2 separate regions of the Homo sapiens genome follow, and region 1 is linked to region 2. The links come from fine-mapping of genetic effects on gene expression. Tissue or cell type: cerebellar hemisphere. Region 2 holds a variant in brackets; the other region holds the start of a gene. All regions are shown on one strand. Distances are from middle to middle. Region 1 holds the start of AFF3 (ALF transcription elongation factor 3). Region 2 has its middle 16 kb from the start of LINC01849.

Region 1 (5,383 bases), 450 kb before region 2:
TCTAGAACAGTCATTGCAATTTAACTTGTGATATTCAAAAACCGGAAATCAACTAAATTTTCATATATGGGAATGGTTGCACAAATTATGGAACATCAGCTCCAGAGGGTGCAAATGGGTCATTTGAAAGAACAAGTTAAATCATACCTAATGACATGTCATTAAGAACCAACATTATTTATACTTTTCATTTCCATTTAACTTGCCTTTACCGAAGGTGGATTTCAACACGTTTTCCTTACATGACTCGGAAATAATATAACAGCATTTTACGTATGTAGACTCATTGAGCCCTCATAAAATCCTGTGAACTCTGTAGGACAGGACATTACACCCACTTCACAGAAAAAGATGTGGAAGTGCAGAAGATAAAAGTTATTTATGGAAGGGTCCATAGCTGTCAACCTTGATAGGCAAGACATCAGGTCCTTCCTCTGAGTAGTGGTGTAGAAAAAATGGTTGGAATTTAGAAACCAGCATCCAGCTCCTCACCATGCCTTCAGCTTTCTCTGTGACTTTGAACTTGTTTCTTAAACTCTCTGAAACTGGACGTCCTCACTGGTCACGTTTTGTTACTACTTGCTTTGTATTCTGGGTGTGATGGGTGGGGGATTGGGACACAGAATCTGGAGATGGTCAGATCCCAACGCTGCTATTTCCCTGCTCTGCACTCTTAGGCTACCTACCAATCTCTCCTCTAAAATAAGCATAATTGCAATGGCTCAGATACAATAACAAAATGTGTGTAAAATGCCGAGCACCACGTCTCACACCTGAGAGGCACTGAATGCATGTTATATACTATCATTTGGATGTCACCGTTCCATGTGCCTATTTCCTGGTTTGCTGTACAAGATGTGTATGAGTACATGTCATCAAGCCCACAGAGCTCCAGAACATGTTCCTCTCACAAGCAGGCCTCATAGGGAGGGGTGTTCTGTGCTGTTCCTCTTTCCTGCTCACTACTTGTCTGTAGCTACAGTGTAAGGACTGTAATGTCACTGCTCTGGCCTTAAGTGTCACCCCCCAAACCCATTTTACACACACCACCTCCCACCTTTCACCTTTCCCAAACTCTTACCATGTCCCTTCAAGTTTGATGGCTTAATTGTACAAAAGGTAGTGATGATGATGATGATGATGATGACAATGATAACAGCTGCTAATACTTACTGAGCCCTTTCAATGTTCCAGGCACTTGTCTAAGCACTTTACATGTATTAGCTTATTTAATTCTTAAGAGGAAGGGATTACTATCTACTATTGTACTTGTGTTACAGATGTGGGAACTCCGATGCAGAGATGTATAGTGACTTGCCTAAAACCATCATGTTAGAGTGGGAATTTAAACCTTGAAATCTGGAAAATAAGCAATGTATATATTTTTCTATTTTCTAAATGCAAATCAAATATACATATGCATAACACCACTAAACACTAAGTGCAGTTACGCCTAGAACAAGGGAATAGCAGTTGACAGAAACACAACCAAAACTAAGAATATTAAATGTCTGTATTACTTTCACTGTAATCACTTCACTTCAACAGTGAGATGGGATAGCCCTAGGTAAAGGAAGGTGCTCTTGTAGTTAGAACATTCTTAAATTTTGCACCAAGGAACACATGCTTTTAATAATGGCAGAGACAACATTTTTTGATGGATTATTTAGTTTGTACGATCAACATTCAAAGAATGAGTTTACCACCACTTTGTTATTGTAAACACTTGACCTTTAGCTACCTGAATGATCCCCTCTTTGAATAAAAGGAATTATGAAACACATGTGTAGACATATTTCATTTTTATATATGTGAGACTCGAATAGCAAGGAAATCACATATTAGGAAAAAAACCCCTTTGTCTTGCTATTAGTTCTCTTTGGTTTCAAAAATCTGGTCACTGTGTATATTGCATTATATCATATGTGTGTGTACATATATATACACACATAAACACACATACACACAATGTCATGTGTATAAATACATGATGTGTTTATGCACATACACAGACACACACACACAAATACACACATATACAATGTTCCATCCAAGAAATACAAATATAGTGCTGTTAGCCCCTAACAGTGAGGAGGTCATTATTCCAAGTCATTTCTGCAGAAGTGACGGTGGCCTTAGGTGGAACTGCCCATGATCTCTCCTTGCAAGCTCACTCACTGGGGCCATTGACTGGGATCCAGTCTGTGGCCATGTCATGGTTTCTATTTTTGAGGTTATAGCTAATGAGCAACATGAGGTTAAGACACACTTTTCATAAGGCCCCAGCCAGCATCATAAATATGTGTGTGAGCATGTTCACACTCAGGTTATGTCTTCTTTATGTGCACCCTCTACCACACACACACACACACATGCACACGCACACACACTGACGGCTTCAGTGACCAACTTTGGTCACATCCCATCTCTTCCTTCTCAATCCCTCTGGCTGTTCACCAGGGCCTGGACCATCTCGGTGAGGCTGACCAAGAATGCTCCCCCTGCCCTGACCAGCGGAGCATGGGCACAGCTACTTAGAGCGCCACCCTTCAGGACACAAAGTCGGGGCTACCTCTCTTCCAGGCAAGGCATCCTAGAGGGCCCGCACACCCTCCAGTTTGATCTTACCTCTCAGCTCCCGTTCCTTTTCTTTCTCTCCCCAGTAAGTCGTTGAACGTCTTTCTTCTGAGGCTGAGCGTGGAGCTCTCTTCTCGCTGGCGAGCTTTCTGAATGGCACTTTCTGTACAAACAGGAAGAGCATGTGTGGTCACAACCCAAGTGTGCAGGTGTTGATAGAGGATGTGAAAGTGTGGAGGCGAGTGACTAAACCAGATACCCAACCGGCCAACTCTCACTTGTGGCAGGGCCTGGTCTACCAGAAGGCTGGAAGCAGGAACCTGGACTCTACTCTGGGGAGACCAACTGACAAAAGCAGAGGATGGTGGCCCTGGAGGCCAAGGGAGAAGGTCTCTTTGACTCCTGTGCTTTCTAACCCTATGCAGACCCATAAAAGAATCCCAGGAACATTTTGGAATCTCTTAGATATATGATTATCAAGAATGTTGATTTCAATGGGCTGCTTAACTTGTCCAAAGCTCTGCTGGTTTCCCAGGCTGTCTGGGCCTCCAAGAGATCAGGACCAAAGGCTCATCCTGCATTGGAACTGTGACAAGTCTTCCAGACCTTTCTAGAACAAAGCTACACCAGGAAAGAAGAGTCTTAGGCAAGGAATCAGATGTCCTAAGGCTGCTCTACATGACCTACATGATGGGTGTTACCTCCTCATCTCCCATTCAGTCAACCCACGGGCACTGGACTTCCTGCCCGACACCCTTCCCTCTCCCCATTCATGCCTGGAATTATTTTCACTAATGACACCAGGGATTCACTAATGGATGCTTTTTCAGTTCCTGTCCTATTTGTCTCCACTGGCAGTGTTTGACTTCCCTGTAGTGTTGACCATTTCTTTCCTCCCAGAACTTCTGCCTGGGCCGCCATGACTCCATACTCTCCTGGTTTTTGTCAGGCGGTCTCTCACACTGGCAGGCTTCCATTCTTTGGTCTTAATTTTCGCCCTCCTGCAAGCTCCACTCTCCGCCTCATGGTTCCTGTTCTCCATGGGTGGCCTCTTCCCAGCTCCAGATGGAACTTGCCAAGCCCACATCCATAGCATCACACATTTCTGCTGTTCTCCTGGAACATCCCCCAGCACCTCCCGTCAGACTCGCCACAATGAAACCCTGCTCTGTCCTCTACCCCACTCATTACTTACCATGTGGCCTGTGAATTCCCTCCTGCCTTGTCCCAGCTTGCTCCTCAGGTCTCTACCCCCTTCTGAGTTTACCACCTTCTGATCTCTCACTTTGCCTCTGCTAATCTGGCTTCTTCAGGTTTGACCCTCCATTATCCTCATCCAAACAGGCCCGTCCTTATCCTGAGAATGGATACCTAGAAACTTCCCCACCCAGTCCTATCCCAAGCCCTGGGAAATTATCCCAGTATTGTCTGCCTCATGTCCCTGGCAAGGAGAAAACGTTTCTTTATCTTATACCCAAACCAGAAATGGGGAGGCTTCCCACGTTCTTCTCTTTGCTGAATACTCTTCAACCTTCCATCACCAAGCCCTGCCCATTCTACCTCTTCAGTCACTCCTCAGATCCTTCTTCCCGTCCGCATCTCCACAGCCACACCCTCCCTCCATTGCCTCTCATCACTGCCCTAATCCCCAAGGGGTACGTGCACCCAGGGCACACCAGACCGTTCACTGAAGGATGAGAAGAAAGGAATTGAATGTCTATCTACCCACACTTGTCTGGTTTTTGTATTTAATTAAGACTCACATACCATAAAATGAGCCGTTTTAAGATGGGGAATCCTGTGGCATTGAGTACACTCACAATGCTGTGCAGCCACCACCTCCATCGAGTTCCCAGACTTACATCTATTTTTACGTCATGTTTTTAGTGTTTACATTTTGTGTATGTTTCAAGGCATGCAATGTGTGAATACAGTTGTATTGTATATCATTTGTGAATAATCATACATCTGCTCAGAATAGGCGGCAAAGACTTTTTTGCTGAAGAAGATACAAAATTAGAAAAGTGGGGACACGTGACCTCCTAACTCATCTCTCACATGTCAGGCTCTAGAGTGTTTTCCAAACTGCCTCCAAATTTTCTCTGCAAAAGACTACAAAAATGATGACAGTACACTCCCCTCACCCCACGACCAGTCCTTAAACGCTTCAATGGCTCCCTGTCACCCACAGGAAAATCCCAAGGCTCCATCGCTGGGCAGGCGAGATGTTGGATTCAGTGGCCTCTGCCCACTCCCCAATACCATCTCTTGCCATCCTTGATACCACTTCCTTCCTCACCACCCAACAATCCCACCACCACTCATGGTTTCTTGAACTTTCAGGCTGCTTTATGTCACAGCTTTGCACATGCTATTTCCTCTTTCAGGGTGCCTTCACTTCCATTGGCTATCTGGCAGATCCCCATGGATATTAAAAACCCTTCCATCCTGCTCATCTCAAAGCAGAATTCCTCACCTGTGCGGGCTGAAGCCATTGCCTTCATGTTAGATGATACTATGGGCAATTTGATGGTCAGGAGGGTGGGCTCTGCCTCCAGAAAGACCTGGGTTTGGGTTCAGCCTCTATCATTTACTAGCAAGGGTAACTTGGGGATGTTACGTTCAGCTTCCTCGTCTATACGGTACCCACTCATAGAGTGACTGTAGAAATTAAACAACATAGTGTGTGTGCAGGATGTCATAAGTATTCAGTAAGTGGTGGAGATTATCATGATGGTTATTCTGTTTGTTTACCTCACTATTCTGTAAACTGCTTGTAAAATTTATAAATTTCATACCAAGGAGA
Region 2 (5,356 bases):
CATTATCGCTCAAAACTGGAAACAATCAAAACATTCATCAATAGATGAATGTATAAACACACTGTGGTATATCAGGACAATGGTATCTGCTTCAAAAGGAAATGCGCTATCAAACCACACACACACACACAAAACGGATGCTAAGTGAAATGAGCCAGTCTGAAAGGGGATGTGGATATTTATCTCCTGATCCTCATGATGAAACTTGACCCCAGTGTTGGAAGTGGGGTCTAATAGGAGGAATTTAAGTCATGGGGGTGGATCCCTCATGGATAGATTAATACCCTCTGATATGGTCTGGATCTGTGTCCTGCCCAGATCCCATGATGTTCAATTGTAATCTTCAGTGTTGGAGTTGGGGACTGGTAGGAGGTGGTTGTATCATGAGGGTGGATTTCTCATGAATGGTTTAGCACTATCCCCCTTGGTACTGTCCTCACAATTGATAGTGAGGGAGTTCTTGTAAGATCTGATTGTTTAAAAGTGCATAGCACCTCTCTCTTCACTCTCTCTCTTGCTTCTGCTCCCACCACGTGAGGCACCTCACTCCCCCTTTGCCTTCTGCCATGACTGGAAGCTTCCTAAGGCCTCCCCAGAAGCAGATGCCAGCATCATGCTTCCTGTACAGCCTGCAGAACTGAACTATGAGCCAATTAAATCTCTTTTCTTTATAAATTACCCAGTCTCAGGTATTTCTTTATAGCAACATGAGAACAGACTAACACACCCTCCCTGGAAGGGAAGGGGGTATGCACAATGGAATGAGTACTCACTCTGTTAATTTCCGTGACAGCTGGTTGTTAAAAAGAGCCTGGCACCTCCCTCCCCTCTCTCTCGCCATGCGATCTTTGTACATTGGTTCCTTTCACCTTTCACCATGAGTGGAAGCAGGCCGAAGCCCTCACCAGAAGCAGATGCTGGTGCCATGCTTCTTGTATAGCCTGTAGAACTGTGGGCCAAATAAACCTCTTCATAAATTACCCAGCCTCTGGTATTTCTTTCTAGCAACACTAAATGGACTAAGACATAACATTCTGGAAAAGGCAAAACTGTAGATACAGTAAAAAGATCAGTGATCACCAGGGGTTCAGGGGAGAGTGGAAGGGTTGAATAAGTAAAGCACATGGCACTTTTAGGGAGTCAAACTATTCTGAATGATACAATAATGGTGGAGAGATGGTAATAGGGGTTCGTCAAAACTCATAGAACTTCATGGCACAAAGAGTGAATCTTAATATATGCAAATTTCAAAAAATCTTTAGAGGGTTTGGGGAATGCCTGGATGAAATGCAGAATGGGGCAAGACAATCTAACTGCATTACAAATGTATGAAACAGCCTCACAGAAGGGGGCTGGGGGAAATGTGCTAACCTAAGCAGCACTGGAAATGAGTCCATGAGGGGAAGGGCAAAAGAAGCTGTACACAAGCCCTGTCTCTAGTTGATAAAGTCATTTATCACATGGGTGTGAATTAACAGTTGTAACACTGCTATACATATAAAGAGAATCGAACAGTTAAATACATAGATGGCAGATGGTGGGAGCCAGGTTTCTCACTGTTATCATGAGAGGTTACAGATAAGTGGGGGGCAAAGGTGAGTGTAAGTGAGAATAATCCATGTGGTAATAGATTAGAGTTGGAGTCATCACTATGAACTCCTGTTTAGGTTTTGTCTTTTTTTTGAGACAGAGTCTCGCTCTGTCGCCTAGGCTGGAGTGCAGCGGAGTGATCTCAACTCACTGCAACCTCCACCTCCTGGTTCAAGCGATTCTCCTGCCCCAGCCTCCCGAGTAGCTGGGATTACAGGTGCCCACCACCACGCCCAGCTAATTTTTGTATTTTTAGTAGAGACAGGGTTTCACCGTGTTGGCCAGGCTGGTCTCGAACCCCTGATTTCAAGTGATCCACCTGCCTCTGCCTCTCAAAGTGCTGGGATTATGGGCATGAGCCACCGTGCCTGGCCACTCCTGTTTAGTTTAATATAGATACAGATGCTTATGAACAGAAATATTTAGGTAATGTATATGCATTGGGTAGTATACACACGCACATTTCCTTGCTCTGTCAGTTGAGGGAGGCTGAAAGAGGAATGACACCCCAGTAGCAAAGAACATACCTGCCACTTAGATCTTGATTTTTCTCCAAAAAAGGAACCA[A/G]TGCTCTTTGAAGAAATGGCTGATTCTAAAACTGAAGCAGGAAATATACAGGATAAGCCTGGAGCATCTTGTAATTCCAGAACACAAAAAACTGCTGAACAAACAAACACAAAACCACAATGATGAGAGTACGTCAGAGGTCCAGGAGCCAACTGACAGATCTCCCAATAGCTAAAGCCGGAACAATTTGGGCAATATAATAAATATTGGATTATAACCCAAAATATAAAGTACATATCTATGAGTTCATACTGATAAAAAAATGATTGAATAAATAAGTTGCCAGGCGCGTGGCTCACACCTGTAATCCCAACACTTTGGGAGGCTAAGGCGGGAGGATCACCTGAGGTCAGGATTTCAAGACAAGCCTGGCCAATATGGTGAAACCCCATCTCTACTAAAAATACAAAAATTAGCCAGGCATGGTGGCAAGCACCTGTAATCCCAGCTACTCAGGAGACTGAGGCAGGAGAATTGCTTGAGCCCCGGAGGTGGAGGTTGCAGTGAGCCGGGATCACGCCTTTGCACTCCAGCCTGGGTGACAAGAGCGAAACTTCAGCTAAACAAACAAACAAACAAACAAAAAACACAAAGAAACCCATATATATGTATACACACACACACACACACACACACATATATATATATATGAATGGAAATAAATAAATAAATAAATAAGTGGAGGAGAAGAGACCATCGCCCAGGCAGCATTCCAAATAACGTAGAGATACTCTACTTAAGATATTCCACTCTTTAAGGGTGGGTTGTCCATAGCAACTTCCTTCCAAAGTGTACAATATGAAAAGGGAGGTGGGAAGAGTACCTTTTTTTTTTCTTTTTTTTGAGTTGGAGTCTTGCTGTGTTGCTCAGGCTGGAGTGCAGTGGCTCGATCTCGGCTCACTGCAACCTCTGCCTCCTGGGTTCAAGTGATTCTTCTGCTTCAGCCTCCCCAGTAGCTGGGATTACAGGTACCCAACAATAATTTTTTTATTTTTTTATTTTTAGTAGAGATGGGGTTTTGCCATGTTGGCCAGGCTGGTCTGGAACTCCTTACCTCAAATGATCCACCCATCTCAGCCTCCCAAATTTCTGGGATTACAGGCGTGAGCCACCGCGCCTGGCTGGGAAGAGTATCTTTATAGTGTAGAAACCTAACACTATCTCAGCTGGGTGATCAAGGTCAAAATCAACAGTGATGAGTCATACTGGTAGTACAGACCCTGGGTATGATGTAATGAAAATGACGCTTTACTTCTTTGGTCTTCCTCCAAAAAACCAAACCACAATTAAGACAAAAACATCTGACAAGTCCAAATTGAAGAACATTCTACAGAATAGCTGACTAGAAAAACTATCAACGTCATCAAAAACAAGGAAAATCTGAGAAACTTTTATAGCCAAGAGGTGCCTAAGAAGACCTGACTAGTAAATGGAATATGGTGTCCTGGATAAGGTCCTAGAACAGAAAAAGTGCATCAGTCAGAAACAACAGAACTCTGAAAGCAGATAGACTTTAGTTACTAATTATGTATCAATACTGATTCATTAATTGTAACAGGTGTACGATGCTCATGTAAGATGTTAAGAGGAGAGAAAACTGGTGCAGGATATATGAGCACTCACTGTACTAGCTTCTGAATTTTTCTGCAAATCTAAAACTATACTAAAAAAATTAAATTTATTTTAAAATATGGCAGTTCATGAATCACATCAAAATGGAAATTGTGCCAGGCACGGTGGCTCACCCCTGTAATCCCAGCACTTTGGGAGGCTGAGGTAGGCGGATCACTTGAGGTCAGGAGTTCAAGACCAGCCTGGCCAACATGGTGAAACCCTGTCTCTACTAAAAATACAAAAAATAGCCAGGTACGGCGGAATACACCTGTAATCCCAGCTACTTGGGAGATTGAGTTAGGATAATTGCTTGAATCCAGGCGGCGGAGGTTGCAATGAAGTGAGATCACACCTCTGCACTCCAGCCTGGCTGACAAAGAGAGACTCTGTCTCAAAAAAAAAAAAAAAAAAAGGAAATTGTAATCCTGTAAGAAAGGTGGTACTCAGTTCTTGATTGTCATGTGTCTATAGTAAAGTGCCAGAACTAAAGGGACACATAGGTGTTAGTTTGGGTCTGCCCAGATGCAGAGCCTGAGCGGGGACTTGGGTACAGTTTGTTCGAGAGGAGATCCAAAGATGCAGGCATGTGGTTGGGTGTGGTGGCTCACGCCTGTAACCCCAGCATTTTGAGAGGCTAAGGCAGGCGGATGACCTGAGGTCAGAAATTCTAGACGAGCCTGGCCAACATAGAGTGAAATTCCGTCTCTACTAAAAAGTACAAAAATTATCTGGGTGTGGTGGTGCACATCCGTAGTTTCAGCTACTTGGGAAGCTGAGGCAGGAGAATCCCTTGAACCCGGAAGGTGCAGGTTGCAGTGAGCCAAGTTTGTGCCACTGCACTCCAGCCTGAGTAACAGAGCAAGACTCCGTCTCTCAAAACAAAACAAAACAGAAAAAACAAAGATGAAGGCATGAGAGCTTTGAGAGACAGAGGCAGGGAAAGGGAAAAGCTGACAGAAGGGTGGGAATGTGAGGTCAGGGCTGGTGGCAGCGGAAACTCAATCCCTTTGAAACCTCTAAGAAGCATGTAGATGACCTCCCAGAGTTGTCCACCCACAGAGAGGATCTTGCTTTATCACCCAACCCTGGCCTCCACCACTTGAGGGTGCCCCAGGGGAGTGAACTGCCCTCCACTTCCGGGCTGTCCTTACGCAAAGGCTGAGCAACTGTCTGTGTGCCTTGGAGAAGGACTTCACAGATGACCCAGTGTGGATGCTGGTGGTGCAGCATGAGTCTGAACTTGCACAGAGTTTGGTTCTATTTTTTTTTTTTCCCAAGCCAAACTGTATGCAGCTTTATTAAAGATACTTTCCATAAACAATCATGGTATTTCAGGCAGGACATGGGCAGACAATCGTTAACAGTATACAACAACTTTCAAACTCTCTTCTTCAATGGACTACCAGAAATCAGAAAGCCACTATAAAACCCAATGAAGTCTTCATCTCATGCTCTGAATAGGGAAAGTTTGGAGTGAGGGTTGACATTTCACATTTAGCATGTTGTTTAACAACTTTTCACAAGCCGACCCTGACTTTCAGAAAGTGAAATGAAAATGGTAGAATTTATCTGAAGATCCACAATC

Evidence for each region. PIP is the estimated chance that this variant, and not a neighbour inherited with it, causes the effect.
Region 1: it holds the start of AFF3, and the variant in region 2 is fine-mapped to the expression of AFF3 in cerebellar hemisphere (GTEx, PIP 0.97).

What each region holds. Positions count from the first base shown.
Region 1 is chr2:100,139,856-100,145,238 of GRCh38, forward strand. It overlaps AFF3 (ALF transcription elongation factor 3), which reads right to left and starts at 2,735. Exons shown (of 25, transcript NM_001386135.1): 1 at 2,629-2,735.
Region 2 is chr2:100,584,882-100,590,237 of GRCh38, forward strand. No RefSeq gene overlaps it. Among named protein-coding and RNA genes, the nearest start is that of LINC01849, 16 kb to the right of the region's middle. The variant A/G (reference allele first, on the strand shown) is at 2,158.